4 linked regions of the Homo sapiens genome follow. The protein of the gene in region 3 purifies or fractionates together with the protein of the main gene of each other region. This does not show direct contact. Each region holds a gene or a part of one and is shown on either strand. Other genes may lie near its edges.

Region 1 (4,199 bases), on a different chromosome or scaffold from region 3:
CTCCTTGCCTCTGCTCACCCTGTTTGTTTCTGCAAACCCACATTGCTTTACCCGTCCTCTGCATCTCGTGTGACACTCAGAATCACTGCCAGGCAAAGAATTTGTAACAACAACGACAGCTAGCATTAATTGAACATGTACTGTGTGCAGTTCTAAAATCTTCATGTGGGTTTTTTCATTTAATTATCACAACTTGAGGAAATAGGCACTATTTTATCTGCATTTTGCACATGAGGACTTGGGTTGGATGGAGATTGTTGCCCACAGTCAAGTAGTCGGCAAGTGACAGAGGCAGGATGAAATGACAGGTGGCCTGCATCCACAGCCCACCTTGGTGTTGCCTGCTCAACTAGGATGTGAGCATCTCAAGGACAATGGATATTTTATAGTCGCCTAATTGGATTGGTGTTATGGAAGCTTCATAGAAAACATTACATGAAAATGTGTACTTTATAGATATATAGTCATTTTTTGTCTTTCACCTCACTGAAAGAGAAATACAGGCACCAATTGGGCCCCTCAATTGTATTTGTCCCCTGTTATTACAGTCACCCCCATCTATGTTTACCCTCGCCTCCTTCTCTGCAGTCCCAGAGGGCAGAGGGGGTGCCACTCCCCTTTCAAGGATTACCCCTTGGAGATCATCCATCCATTTCTGTCCTCTCAGGGACTTTACCCCACCAATGACTTCCCCTCTTTCTTGTATCTTTGTCCTTTTTCTCTGCATCGACTCTTTCCATCAGCAGATAAACACATGGTTGGATCTCTTTTCTCCTAAAAATCCTCCTTCTTCATTTGTTTTCTCTCCAACTAGCACCCTATTCCCTTCAGTCCACAGCCATGCTTTCTAGAAGAGTAGTTTACATGGTTTACTCCTTCACACCTTTTATGTTCAGTTCATAGCCCATTATGGATTGGTGTTCACTCTCATCATGCCAGCAGAACTGCCCAAGACATCAGGGATCCCTGGTGCTAAATCTGATGGACAGTTTTCTGTCCTTATCTGACCTGCTCCCACTTTTTGGAACTCTTTGGCTTCCATGAATTTATCCTGTTCTAATTTCCTTTGTCTGGGGGCTCCTGCTGTCCTACATGAGTTGCTCTTTCTTACTTGACCCTTTAGTATGTTGCATTCCCCAAAGCTTCTGTACTTGGCCCTTATTATCCTCACTTGAAACTCTTTTTCCTGATTGATCTCATCTTCTGTTAGGTTTCAGTGATCACTAGTAAGTTGATGATCCCCAAATATATGTATATTTTATGCCCTGTCCTCTATTCTGAATTTCAGGTCAGAACATACAAATGCCTAGTGTTTTACAGGGACTTCCCACTCAGTAAGGTCAAGATGGGACTTGACTTCTAGCCTGACTTCCTCACTGCCCTCCTCCAAGTGTGTTTATGTCAGCAAAGCCCCCACACTGTCCAAGCCAAAGTCTTGGGAGCTACCATTGATTTTTCCCTTTTCTATATTTTCTGTATCTCATTCATTCACTCAGGAAACACTAGTTGAGCATTTTCTCTGTGTCAGGCCTGTGCTTGTTTCCGAAGATCCAGATCTGCTGTCATAGAGCTTCCGGTCTATCAGGGAAGACAAATGTTAAATGAATACACATTTATTAATTAGAATTGTGCCAGAAGTTACAAAGGGTGCACAAGAAACTATGAGAGGAGCTAGTTCAGTCCCAAATCCTGTTGCTTCTGCCTTCTAAATGATTCCTTCTCAAATGTCTACACCTCTCCTCCTCACTGTTGCCATAGGCTGCCATACTGTCTGGCTTGAACGCCTACGGGAGCTTCCTTCCTAGCCTTACCTCCAGCTCACTTGCCTCCCAAGACTTCTTAGGATATATTGCATGTTCCCCAGAAAACCATTCAAGGCCCTTCCTAGCTGGGCCCCCATTCTTTTCTCTAGCCACATCCATCCTTTGTAGGATTACCTCCAGGATGAGGAGCTCTTCACCTTTAAAGATGAGCAAACTGAGGTTGGCTGCTTTAGCCAGACTTGAACTGCTGTTTTTCAGAGTCCTGAGTGATGCTGGGTGACCTGAGGGGCCAGGTGTAGAAATCTGGCATTTCTGAGCTTGGAGTAACCTTCGATCACCTACTCTCAGGGATCCCAATTGGCCTGAGTCAGGGAGTGTGTCAGCATCACCCAGGGGTTCCTAAATGTCCCATGCTTGCTGCTCCTATCCCTTCTTGGATTTTCTGGGTGGCTTAGGGATCACTGACTCAGTTGCACCCCTCTCAGCCCCCTCCTTGCCCTCAGGAGGCTGCTGTTCTGGCTTTCAACAGCCTTGGAAGCCTTGGAGCTGCTGGTTGCCCAGCCTTTTTTTTTTTTTTTTCTTTTTTAGCCTTTGGTCTTTATTTTAATTTCCCTGATGGAGGACATGGGTAAGCATTGATAGTGGAATAACGTGAGGACCTGAATTCATTCCGGAAATCTAAGTTTGGGCACAGTTGTGGATGACTTTGTACTTGGTAGGTAGAAATGGGGCCATTATCCCATTACAACAGTCTTGAATACAGGATGATATAACCTCGTAATGAAACTAAGATGTTCTCTGCTCAAAACGCCCTCAAAATGACTTGGACCTGAAGCAGCACATGACTCAACCCATCTGCTCCCTGCAGATGGCCCTGAGTGGCTTTGTCCACTGCCTCTGCAGCACCCTTGCTCAAGCTCCTCTGATGTGTGGGCCCCACCATCAGGCTCATTTAGTACTGGCTAAGGCTATCAGAGCTGACACAGAGGGGACTCTCTGTCCTCAAACCGCCCCACTCTAGCCCCTGGTAGCCTGTCACTTTCTGAATTCTCACTGTTTCTGGTTGTTCCCTGTCAAATTGCAAATGCTCCCTGAGGGGATATTTCAAAACACTAGCCATTAGCATCTCAGAGCAAATCGATTCATTTACTAATTGGAACAGCCACTGAAGGTCCAGAACACAGGCCACTGTTCTAGGGTTTCTGAAAAGTGGCCTAAGGACAACCGGCATGAAGAGTTGACTGAATCAGAACCTCAGGGCATAGGACCTGGGATTCTTGTGCTCATTAGAGTTTGAGAAGCACTGTTTGAGCAGGTCTGGCCTGGGAGGAAAGTCTGGGGCAATGAGTTTCTTGGGGTGGAGGCATTGTTTTAGTGAAGTTGAGGGTGCTTAATATAGGAGGTGGGAGAGTACAGGAGTTAGAGGCATCTGTTTCTTAAATGAACTTCCTAATTATGTGATGTAGCCCTCATCACTGGGAACACCTTCGCCTCAGCACTTGCCACTCTGCACTTGCTCACCTGGGACCTTGCCTGCTGAGCGCTGTTCTCCTCTCACCTCCTGTGTGCTTATCTTTCTATTTAGGTCCATAGGCTACCAGCTATAGGAGGCCTTTGAGGATCTCTAACCCAAATCCTTTATTTTAAGGACAAGAAAAGTGACTCTTGAAGAAGGAAAGTGAGTTTCCCCATATCACACAGTGGCATTTCTGGGATCAAGACAGGGCTTCCTGGCTTTCAATTCTATTTTCTGTTTCTCGTATCCTAGATTATCTTATTCAAGACAAAAATTATGACTTTTTTTCTCGGTGAAACAGCCACCCCAGCATTATAATGCAATGTTGGGGACATAATGAATATACAATAAATGTTTCAGAGTTAAATGGATCATGATGTGCTTGACAGCAAAGAAATATCATGGCATCAGGGAAAAACATTGAACTTGGATGTCAGGATATCTCTGTGCTGGGCTTTTCTCTATAGCCACTTACCTGTGACTCTGGATTCTAAAGTTCCAGCTTAAACATCCTATGTTAAAAGGCTACCCTAACCAGTATGGTAGCCAGTAGCCTTAGGTGGCTATTTAAATGTATTGAAATAAAATAAAATAAAAATTCAGTTCATTTGTTCTAGCCAAATTTCAAGAGCTCAATGGCCACATGCGGCTAGTGACTACTGTATCCGACACCATATATATAGACTATTTACCCTGTTGCAGAAACTTCTATTGGACAGCATTAGAGCAGACTTTGCGGGTAGAGGGGAATGGGATGTATGAGGCTAGGTTTTGTATGTTTTGGAGCTTAGAGTTTGAGTGAGTTTTCGAGAGCCTCCTGAAAGCCATTCAACCCTGTCCCCTGAGGGAAATCAAATATCCTGGGAAGAACTCAATGACCACTCTCACCTTCAAGTAGCATTAATGACTGGAAAATAACA
Region 2 (4,199 bases), on a different chromosome or scaffold from region 3:
TAAGACTGGCATGTTGTAATAAAATTGAAATCATGACATTTGGGACCAAAATTTCTGTATTTTTTTTTTACCCCACTCTAGATTTTCTCTTTTTCTCTGTGACTTTTTCATTTTTTGTTTATTTCTTATCATTTAAATGAAACCCCCAACAGGCAAAATTCATCACTGGGTGCATGGTCCCTACTATTGCTGTGCCGAACTACAAATACCATCTTATGTAACCTTCGTTAACAAGTCAATGGGGATACTATTATGATCTGCTTTTTATTTTTTTTTTTATTTTAAGGAAACCAAGTCTTGGAGAGGGTAAAGATCAGCTCTGGGCGTTAAACCCAGGGCTCTCACTCCAGAGTCCCGCACCCCTACACTCCTAACACCTAATCCCTGGCCCTGGCCTATGTTACAGAATATGGGCCAGTGACCTGGAACAGCCTCCTTTGCCTGCCTCTGCTGGGACCACAGGAAGAATGCTGGAGAAGACCCTGAGATGTGTGTGGCTTTAAGTTCCTTGAAATGACAGTAGCATTGTTTCCTCTTTGAGTGGGAAGGATGGGGAGAAAAGCTGTCAGTTTTGGGAGGTTCGCACTCATGGTAGGGCTGGATGTGGCAGTCCTGAGGAGGCAGCTCACTGCCCCTCTCTCAGGGGCATGTATATGTGCTCTGCTGTTTGGTTGCTAAGGATCAAAGCAGCTTGGCTCTGAGGGAAAAGGGCAGCATCCCAAGGGATGAACTCTCTATAACAGCCCTTCTCTTGGGGTAGGTTTACTGATTCTGTTCCTCTCAGATCATGACAGATGAATCCATTTTATAAGGCAGTACCCTGGGAGCAGGCAGACTCACCACAGCTGTTCTCTTGTTGGTAACCACAGGAAGGAAGGAAGGAAGGAAGGAAGGAAGAATGCAAAGTAAATACTCTAGCCGACAGCCTGTTCAGATTGGGTCTCTGGATACCAGATTTAACCTCTGTGAGCCTCAGTTTGTTAATTTGTAAGGTAGGGATAAAAATATCTACTGTTTAGGATTATCATGAAGATTAGGAATAATATGCACAATGCATGGCAGGTAGTAGGTTATAGACTTATTATGTTCAGAAAATTGTATGTGAAAGTTAATGAGGTTATTGAAATGTGTTAAGCACCATGTGATTTTACAGGAAGAGCCCATGGTGATGTTCACTCAACTCCACAATGCTACCAAGCACAATCTCATATTCACCTATTGATGAAGAATATCCACTAGCTGCATGATTACCCCACACTCTATACATTTGGTCTGCTGCTGAGTCTTTGTAATTTGGGCTTTCAGTTTTAGGAAAGAATGAGTAGTTAATTTACATATTAAAACAGGAGAATGAATTAAGAGTCCAGGTGATTCATAGGGAGGCGATTTTCAGAAAGGATTTTGGTCACTGGCATAATGGAGTTACCACCACAGATGTTTCAAGATTTTTATCTCTGTTCACTGGTTTTTCTAATGTGTTTGGTAAAGGCTGTATTGCCCATATCATCATTCTTTTTTACATGCTTGTAATTCTATATATCTATTTCTTCCCTGATGTCTATGAGGGTATGGAACACATCTGTCTATTTACTGCATCCCCAGCATCTAGCAAAGTGCCTGGCACATAATAGGTACATATATTTAACATGTGTTTGTTCAGTAAACTCATACATGAATGATTTAGAGTGACAAGAATCATGACAATGCATGATTCCCGAAATCTTAAGTTCTTTTCATTTTTGCATTTAAATCTTAAGTTTATATTCACCTTTGCCTCCTTGAAGCTGTTTGTAATAGTAAAAATTAGTAACCATTTACATATCAAACAAAGAGGCATTGTTTGGAACATCTAAATATCTAATAGCTGGATGGCTAAAATAAATTATGGTAGAGTATAGAATACTATGTGAATGCATTTCATGTTTGGACAATGACTACACATTGCAAGAGGTTCTAGGTGGCTAGATAGCAAAGAATAGGTGTTGTCTCTAGGTAGATGGGATTGTGAATATTCCTTAAATTCTTTTGATTATATTTCTGATTCTTATGTAGGAATTTGCATTGCTTTTACAAGGAGGGAATGCAGTATAAGAAATATAAACTATGTATATTATAAGATCACTTATACTGTACCACCTGTCACTGGGCACTTAAGGTTGTCTTCTCAGCTAATTTTCTAAATTTGCCCTCCTCTAACTCTTTTTGAACATTTCAGTAGTTTCCAACCTCTCAGCATTCCAAAATTGCATAATTGAGTTAAAAGAGATGCGTGATTTAAAAAGAAACTCAAAGTAGGAAAAAAAAAGTTAACTGGAATCCAGTGACTAAGAATATTAATTTTTCAGCATGTTGCCACGTTAAATACATTGCTTTGCTGTAAGTCATGGTTAACTTTTGGTCTCATTTCTGCTTTTGGCTTTTGCTTTGTTATGTATACATTTTCTGACAGTTCACGAATACCTCCTGTGTAAGTGTTCCCTAATTGTTTTGCACGTGTGCTTGAGGTGTTTGCAAGGTGGCCACCATTGAATATCATTTCTTTGTCTGCAAAGGCAGCTCCAGGAACGAGAAACTTTGTAAAGTAAGATGGCTTCTGATATGGTTTGGCTGTGTCCCCACCCAAATCTCATCTTGAATTGTAGTTCCCATAATCCACACATCATGGGAGGGACTCAGTGGTTTTATAAAGGGCAGTTCCACTGCACACGCTGTCTTGCCTCCCACCATGTAAAACATGCCTTTGGTCTTCCTTTGCCTCCCGCCATGATTGTAAGGCTTCCCCAGCCATGTGGAACTGTGAGTCCATTAATCCTCTTTTTTTTTTTTTTTTTTTTTTTTTTTTTTTATAGATTACCGAGTCTTCGGTATTTCTTCATAGCAGTATGAAAATGTACTAATACAACTTTTCTCTGTTTTTAAATTAACATTTGCGAATAGAGGTATGAATGAGTAAACTTTTAATATTATACATTTATATATATTGCAAAAATTTTACTGTTGGTTCCGCACTGTTTCTGGGAACATATGACATTGTTTTCTTTCTAACATCTGGTTGCCTCTTTGGTTTTCTGACAGAAGTGGAATTCAGGGTCCCTTTTTCCAGGATCCACCAGCCACATTACTTTTCATGTAGGGAACTCTTTTTCAGTCTTAAAGGAAAGCCCTACTTCATTTTTAATATCTTCCCTCATAGGCACTCTGATAAACTTGTTGAGTGCCCTTGAGACTGTCTCCTTGTTGTTATGCAGCCCTAATATACTCCTTCTCTTGAAGAAAGAATAAGAAGTTCTAATGAGAAGTCCTAATCTCTTGATTTGAAGGCAGTACCCCTATTGCGTCCCACTTGGGGATAATAGGTATGGAATGGGAAAAATCCTGAAAAAAATGTCTCAGAATCTGTCCCTACTAAATCTGCTGCTGACACTCAGGGATTTTGGAACACCCCTCTTCTCTCTCCTTCCCACTTGGCTTTCACTATGAGCTTCTGAGGATTCCTGAGGGTCTCCGCAACTCCACGATGGTGATTCTGTTTTCTGTTTATTAAACTTTTTTGAATTATGAGGTATGCACACATAGAACACCCAAATATTATTTTGTACACTCGTAACCACCACCCAGATGAGGAAATATAATTTTGCCATTGTCTAAGAAGGCTCTTCTATGTGCCCCATTCCCAGAGCTCTTTTCTCCCCTATAAGTAACCAGCATCCTGATTTTGATAGTACAGTTGGCCCTTCCTAGCTGCAGTTTCTGCATCTGCATATTTAACAAACTGCAGAAGGAAAATATTTTAAAAAAATAGAAATAAAAAACAAAAAATAACGCAAAAACAATACAGTATAACAACTACTTACATAACACTTACATCGTATTAGGTGTTATAAATAATCTTGAGATGATTTACAATATACAGGAGGATGTGCTTAGGTTATATGCAAATATTATACCCTTTCACGTAAGGGACTTGAGCAGCCTCGGGTTTTGGTATCCATAGGGGACCTGAAACCAATCCCCTGTGAACACCAAGCATTGACTGTCATTACTTTCTTGCATTTTTAAAATAGTTTTACCATTCATATATGCATTGCTAGTTATAACAATTTAGTTTTACCATTTAGAAACTATGATATGTCTTTTTAATGTATAGATTCTCTCTTTCTTTTCTATTCTTAAAATTTACCTGTTGAAGAACCAGGGCC
Region 3 (3,481 bases):
TTCTAACTGGTGTGAGATGGTATCTCATTGTGGTTTTGATTTGCGTTTCTCTGATGGCCAGTGATGATGAGCATTTTTTCATGTGTCTGTTGGCTGCATAAATGTCTTCTTTTGAGAAGTGTCTGTTCATATCCTTCGCCCACTTGTTGATGGGGTTGTTTGTTTTTTTCTTGTAAATTTTTTTGAGTTCTTTGTGGATTCTGGATATTAGCCCTTTGTCAGATGAGTAGATTGCAAAAATTTTCTTTCATTCTGTAGGTTGCCTGTTCACTCTGATGGTAGTTTCTTTAGCTGTGCAGAAGCTCTTTAGTTTAATTAGATCCCATTTGTCAATTTTGGCTTTTGTTGCCATTGCTTTTGGTGTTTTAGACATGAAGTCCTTGCCCATGCCTATGTCCTGAATGGTATTGCCTAGGTTTTCTTCTAGGGTTTTTATGGTTTTAGGTCTAACATGTAAGTCTTTAATCCATCTTGAATTAATTTTTGTATAAGGTATAAGGAAGGGATCCAGTTTCAGCTTTCTACATATGGCTAGCCAGATTTCCCAGCACCATTTATTAAATAGGGAATCCTTTCCCCATTTCTTGTTTTTGTCAGGTTTGTGAAAGATCATATGGTTGTAGATGTGTGGTATTATTTCTGAGGGCTCTGTTGTGTTCCATTGGTCTATATGTCTGTTTTTGTACCAGTACCATGCTGTTTTGGTTACTGTAGCCTTGTAGTATAGTTTGAAGTCAGGTAGCACATTACTCATGTTCTTTCTTTCAGAAATAGGTCTTAGTAGAAAGTAAAAAATTTCAGTAGGCATACCGTGTCACCTGGAAAGAGTAGAAACACAAAATCCACTTGAGGAATTCATTTTTCTATTTTTTGTGTGTGTACTTACATTTTACCCCTTCAGTTTCCATCTAAGCCAATCATAGTTTCTGAGAGCCCAGGGTCCTGTGGATAAGCCGCTTCAGTGCAGCCTTCACTTCTTTATTCCTTGAGCTGTAGATGATGGGGTTCAACATGGGAGTCACCACTGTGGAAGAGAGTGACAGCAGCTTCTTGCTCTCAGAAGAGGCACTGGATTGGGGTCGGAAATACGTGAGGATGGCAGTGCTATAGAAGAGAGAGACAACCAAGAGGTGGGCGGAACAGGTGGAGAATGCCTGATGTTTCCCCTCAGCTGACGGCATCCTGAAGATAGTGGAGAGGATGCGGACATAGGATCCCAGGATCAGCAAGAAAGGAAAGAGAATGAATAGGACAGTGGCTGTCAGAGCCTCCAGTTCAAACACAGAGGTGTCAGCACAGACCAGTGCAATAACAGGAGGGCTGTCACAGAAGAAGTGGTTCACCCTGTTGGGGCCACAAAAAGGGAAACTGAAAATCCATGTGGTTTGCACAGTGGCCACTGAAAACCCTGAGAACCAAGAGGCAGCTGCCAGCTGGGCACAGGATATGTGGCCCATGATGACTGGGTAGTGCAAGGGGTCACAGATGGCCACGTAGCGGTCATATGCCATGGTGGCCAGGAGGCAGCACTCAGCAGCCCCAAAAAAGAAGAAGAAATACATCTGAGTGGCACATCCAAGGAAGGAGATGGTTGTGTCTTGAATGATCAGGGTCCCCAGCATCTTGGGCACAATGACCAAGTTGAAACCTATCTCCAGGAAGGACAAGTTTCTGAGGAAGAAGTACATAGGACTTTGTAGTGCAGAGTCAGCTATAGTGACCAGGATGATGAGGACATTGCCCATTAAAGTAACCAAGTAAATGGTCAAGAAAAGGAGAAACAGTAGAGCCTGAAGCTCAGTGGACAGGGCTGAGAAGCTCACGAGAACAAATTCACTGACAATTGTCCAGTTTTCCCACATCATTCTTCTGCCCAGGACTTCACTGGGCATTCAAAATCTAGGAAGGTAGAAGAAATCTCATATGTTATTTATACCTTTATTATATTCTTATAAAGGGGACCTCCTGTGGCCTCATTCTTTACTTTCCTTGTTAGAGTTGTTGAGGATCAAACATCTATACTCTCCAAAATATAATAAAACAAATTTGACCATTAGATTCACAATTTTTGGGGAAAGAATTCTACTTTTCCAGACTTAATTAACATACTATATATATCTATACATGTCCTGATTTTTCTGTTCTCTGTAGAGAATGGGCAAAATCACAGCTTTATGTTCATGCTCCTACCTTATCTCTCTTCAATAATGGTGCTAAGAAAGGCAGGCCAAGCATTTATGAAGAGAGAGGTCGTGACACATAATGAAAAGTGGTGAGGTCAGGCAGGTATATTTTTTGCAAAACAAAAATGTAGGAAGGAGAAAATCAAAGAAACTGATTCAGCAATTACTAAATGATTCCTGAGGAGGAGATCCGAATGTGTCTCAATCTCAAGAAGCCCATACTCAGGAAGGTTTCACTATATTGTGAGAATCTCAATTTCTACACTCTGAAAATTGCAGTGTAAACAAGAAGACACACAACATAGTCAGGGTGGCTTATCTTGATCCCAGGGATGAGTATTTTCCAAGTGGTTGTATGTGTCAAGATAGCATCAGAACCATGGACAGAATCTAGATGGGTTAAGCATGAACTTTTTCATCAGCTCTCTTGGTTGACTTGTGTCTTGACTCTCAAGAAACTTGAAGCTCACATTTTACATGTTAATAAAATACAACTTAAATATGCAAGTGTGACTAATATGAAATCCCATGAAAAGGAAACAAAAGATTTCATCATTGCATTAATAACGAAGCTTCAAAATTGGGACCCTGAAATTCTTTGTGATGACTATAAACATATGGAGGAATAAAATCTGAAGCACTTAGCATGTTGTCTGCTATACTGTACATGTTCCATGAATGTTAACCATTATAATTATTGATATAATGCTAGACCTATCTTCTAAATCTTCTTATCCAGCTCATTGCCAAAACTCACTATAGCCCCTACTATTCAATCTCTAAAATAAAATAATTAATTCAGTAAATATTGATTATCAGAAGATAATTCTGTATGCTATGCTCTGTTTTAGATACTGAAGATAATACATTAGTAAATAAAACAAGCAAAAATCTCTGCCCTCATAAAACTCATCATAGGGAAGACAGGTTATAAACAAATTCTGTTAAGCCAGGCACGGAGGCTCACGCCTGTAATCACAGCTCTTTGGGAGGTGGAGGCTGGCTGATCACCTGAGATCGGGAGTTCAAGACCAGCCTGACCAACATAGAGAAACCCTGTCTCTACTAAAAATACAAAATTAGCTCGGCGTGGTGGTGCATGCCTGTAATCCCAGCTACTCAGGAGGCTGAGGCAGGAGAATCGCTGGAACACGGGAGGCGGAAGTTGCGGTGAGCCGAGATCACACCATTGCACTCCAGCATGGGCAACAAGAGCAAAATTCCACTCAAAAATTAATTAATTAATTAATTATGTTAGTAGAAAGTATGGTATATAAGAGCAATGGAGAAGAATAAAG
Region 4 (4,199 bases), on a different chromosome or scaffold from region 3:
CCTCTCCTCCGCTTGGTCCCTCAGCTCTGTAGAGTGGCCCAGGGTTTGTGCATCCCCTCCTCTGGTTGCAGTCTGTGAACAGTTCAGCGAGGGTGAAGCAAGGGCCGTGACTACAGTGGGAGGGGGTGAGCCGGGCTCTGGACAGGAGCCCAGTCTTAGGCTGCTGCTCCAGTGGTACCCAGGCAGGGCTGACAGCCCAGTAGGGAGGGGCCTTTTTTTTTTTTTTTTTTTAATGCCTGTCACCTTTGTCTCCCAGCAACCCAGAAGTCTCTGCCACCCTGGAGGAAAGTGATCCCACTTCTAGGTATCAGTAGCTTAATGGGCTACCCTCTGTGACATTTATTGTTACTCTATAAGTCTGGGTTAAGCAGGGCTAGCCTGTCTGGAGAAGCTCATGATCTCCTTTTAGGCATTATGCCTGCAACTTGAGTAGCTGCCACCGATGAATGGTGGTGCCTGGCTGTGCTTCCATTGCACAAATGCACAAATAGTCAGGTTCCTTCTAGGTATGGGGCCAAGAAAGAAAGCTTGAGCATAGCTGGAGTCCAGACAATGGTGTCCTCTGGCTCAGACAGACATCATTCATTCAGAATCAGCCAAATGACTTCTGATTGCTTGGGATAATGAATGTAATTCAAATTGAGAGAAAATACAGATTTACATAGCAATGCTGTGCTTTCCTTATATGAAACATCAACTACTGCTTCTTACTGCTTTGCTCATCTATGTTTTTTACACCGAGGAGAGACCTTTGTGTTTTTCACTTATGCTTTGAAGTTTCAAATGTTAGGCTTTTGTTTAGAAGCACTTTCTGCATGTGCGTATTCCCTCTGTCAGCCTGCTGGCCATTTATTTGAAAGCAACATCCAGAAGTGACTGGCTGATTAGAAGAAGGGCATCAGTTGATCTTTTTTTGGCGGGGGTTGGGGGACAGGGTCTCACTCTGTCACCCAGGCTGGAATGTAGAGACATGATCTCGGCTCACTGCACCCTCTACCTCCTGGGCTTAAGGGATCCTCCCACCTCAGCCTTCTGAGTGACTAGGACTACAGGCATGTGCCACCACGCCCAACTAATTAAAAAAAATTGTAGAGACAAGGTCTTAACTATGTTGCCCAGGCTGGTCTCAAACTCCTGGGCTCAAGCAATCCTCTTGCCTCAGCCTCTCAAAGTGCTGGGATGACAGGCATGAGCCATTGTGCCTGGCCAGTTGATCTTCTTAAGTGTGAGTAACTAGCTCTTTCTACTCAGCCCGTCTTCATTTTTCTCTTTCTCTTTTTTCAAAATTAAAGTGTATTGGGATTATCTCTACTGTAAAAATAATACTTATTACAGAAAATCCTCATTATCAAAAATAAAAGACATGGGGAAAAATCACCCATCATGTGAAGATTCAGTCTCTGTTAATATTTTTAAGTGTTTCTTTTCTGTCTTTTTTTTTGTGCATTTGAATTTCTTTTTTTTTTTTTTCACAGTTCTGATTAGTTTTTAAGAAAATTATTGTGGTTGAATATACATGGCCTAAAATTTGCCATGTAACCATTTATACATGTACTCTTCAACTGTTTTTAAAGTAGGAACTAGCGCCGGGCCCGGTGGCTCCTGCCTGTAATCCCAGCACTTTGGGAGGCCGAGGCAGGTGGATCACTTGAGGTCAGGAGTTCAAGACCAACTTGGACAATATCGTGAAACCTTGTCTCTACTAAAAGTATTAATACAAAAGTTAGCTAGGCATGGTGGCATGCTCCTGTAATTCCAGCTACTCAGGAGGCTGAGGCAGGAGAATCACTATCCAGCCTAGGCGAGAGAGTGAGACTCCGTCTCAAAAAAATAAAAAATAAATTAAAAAAATAAATAAAGTAGGAACTAATTCCCTGCAAGCAACAGGTTTTTTCTTCTCATGTGTCTTCAACTTCGTTTTCTTTCCACATCAGAACTGAAAAGTCAGAAGTGTGGTCACTGTTAACTGGTACCTGCCTGCACGTACTGGTCTTCTGTTTTCTCTGTAGTACGACATTGCCTTGGCAGCTGAATTTGTATCACTCCAGCGAGCTCCCTGCCAGATGGTAGCAATAGTTCAGAGCCGCTATAAATGTGTTTTCTGAGAGTTCTGTGAATGGCTTATTGACTACTGAGCAACTTCAGGCTCCTTCTGTCCTATATTCTTTCTGAATGAAGATTTTGAACCACAGACAAAACAGTGCAGTTTTTCACACAGTATCATAATGATTTCCTCACGTCTCTTCTTAGGGTACTTGTAATTTTTAATGAAGTTAGAGGATACAGTATATAGCCCAGACTATTTAAGCTCAGAGAGTGAAATTGTAAACACTCTGCTACTGCAGTGGGGATGTATTTTTGGTCAGAGGCCCATCCAAAGATTCTTTAAAGAATAATTCACAATTTTGATTAGTTGCTGTTTCTTTAGATGACTTCGTGTATGTGTTTTGCTTTTCCTTCTGTTCCAGGGCCACCACTGCCCAGTTCGGGAAATGAGCAGCACTCATCAGCCTCCATCTTCGAGCACGTGGACAGGATCTCCCGCCCCCCGGAGGCTAGCCGGCGGGTCCCCAGTAAGATCCAGCTTATCGCCATGCAGCCGATCCCGGCACCTCCCGTCCAGCGCCCCTCCCCAGCCGACCGAGTGGCGGAAAGCAATAAAATCAACAAAGAGGTATTTGCTTTTATTTAAAAGTCTGTTACTTAAAAAACTCGGCTAAGCCCGGTGGCTTATGCCTGTAATCCCAGCACTTGGGGGGGCCAAGGCAGGCAGATCGCCTGAGGTCGGGAGTTTGAGACCAGCCTGGCCAACATGGTGAAACGCCATCTCTACTAAAAATACAAAATTAGCTGGGCGTGGTGGCGGGTTCCTGTAATCCCAGCTGCTCAGGAGGCTGAGGCAGGAGAATCACTTGAACCCGGGAGGGGGAGTTTGCACTGAGCCGGGATCTCGCCACTGCACTCCAGCCTGGTTGACAGAGTGAGACTCCATCTCAAAACAAAAACAAAAACAAAAAAAACTCACACACTTATTGGGTCTGTGTTTGAAAATGAGTGCAAGGTACAGTGTCAACTAGTTACTGAAGGCATAAGCTGCTGACAAGGATTCTTAATGTAAAACATCACGCTTGTTGGAGATCAGATACTGTGCATGGACACTCTGGGGCGCATTGGCAGACATGCAGAAAAGTGTTAGTGCGGCCGACCAGGGGCTGCCCTCCTCAGAAAGAGCCACTTCAGCTTCTGATCCTCCTCACGCTTCAACGCAGTTCAGGTTTCCGTCTTTGGGGATACCACTCTGGGGGCAGGGGGTCTCATGTCAGGTAACTTGTTTTGGTGACACTAGGTAATTATCCTCTTTATATCTGTCAGTCCTATTTATTAAAGATCTCTAAAGGAGGAAAATATTCTTTTCTGGTTATCAGATGTCTCTTTAAAGTTGTCATTGGCCGATTTCCAAGGTTCGAGTGACTTTTTTTCCCTGCTTTGGGGGATGGTGACAAGACTCCAGTGCACCACACAGTGCTTGAGGGTAAAGCTCGTGGGATGGCAGGGTCTCTGCTCCTCCCTGGTCTGTGCCTGTCGCTCTCTCGGTGACTCCGTGGAGCTTACAGACAGCAAGTTAAGTGTGGGCCAGAGGAGAGGAGCATAGCAGGAAGGCGCTCCTAGAAGGCTTTGCTGGCTGGGCATGGTGGCTCACACCTGTAATCCCAGCACTTTGGGAGCTTGATGTGGGCGTATCATTTCAGGTCAGGAGTTCGAGACCAGCCTGGCCAACATAGAGAAACCCCATCTCTACTAAAAGTACAAAAAATGAACTGGGCATGATGGTGCGTGTCTGTAATCCCAGCTACTCGGCAGGCTGAGACAGGAGAATCACTTGAACCCGGGAAGTGGAGGTTGCAGCGAGCTGAGATCATGCCATTGCACTCCAGCCTGGGCAACAGAGTGAGACTCTGTCTCAAATAAATAAATAAACATAAAAATAAATAAAGACTTTGCGAAGTGTGTGTCCCAGAAGCTTCCCGGGACCTCTATGGCTGTCTTTCTCTCCCTCACCCTTCCTCAGATTCAGACCGCGCTGCGGCACAAGTCTGAGATCGAGCACCATCGCAACAAGATCCGCCTGCGCGCCAAGCGCCGCGGGCACTACGAGTTCCCGGTGGTAGACGACCTGTCCTCGGGCGACACTAAGGAGC

The links.
Region 1: the proteins of OR10A4 (region 3) and LRRC52 purify together in Homo sapiens (affinity purification with mass spectrometry; one large-scale study listed by BioGRID and IntAct). This does not show direct contact.
Region 2: the proteins of OR10A4 (region 3) and GADL1 purify together in Homo sapiens (affinity purification with mass spectrometry; one large-scale study listed by BioGRID and IntAct). This does not show direct contact.
Region 4: the proteins of OR10A4 (region 3) and KIAA1549 purify together in Homo sapiens (affinity purification with mass spectrometry; one large-scale study listed by BioGRID and IntAct). This does not show direct contact.

The regions. Positions count from the first base shown.
Region 1 is NC_000001.11:165,550,123-165,554,321, reverse strand, and holds part of LRRC52 (leucine-rich repeat-containing protein 52 precursor), read right to left. Parts: intron 1-4,199. UniProt on the Homo sapiens protein: Auxiliary protein of the large-conductance, voltage and calcium-activated potassium channel (BK alpha).
Region 2 is NC_000003.12:30,887,731-30,891,929, reverse strand, and holds part of GADL1 (acidic amino acid decarboxylase GADL1), read left to right. Parts: intron 1-4,199. UniProt on the Homo sapiens protein: May catalyze the decarboxylation of L-aspartate, 3-sulfino-L-alanine (cysteine sulfinic acid), and L-cysteate to beta-alanine, hypotaurine and taurine, respectively. Does not exhibit any decarboxylation activity toward glutamate.
Region 3 is NC_000011.10:6,875,032-6,878,512, reverse strand, and holds OR10A4 (olfactory receptor 10A4), read right to left. Parts: upstream 1,889-3,481; 5' UTR 1,866-1,888; coding exon 918-1,865; 3' UTR 894-917; downstream 1-893. UniProt on the Homo sapiens protein: Odorant receptor. May be involved in taste perception.
Region 4 is NC_000007.14:138,869,632-138,873,830, reverse strand, and holds part of KIAA1549 (UPF0606 protein KIAA1549), read left to right. Parts: intron 1-2,468; coding exon 2,469-2,674; intron 2,675-4,069; coding exon 4,070-4,199. UniProt on the Homo sapiens protein: May play a role in photoreceptor function.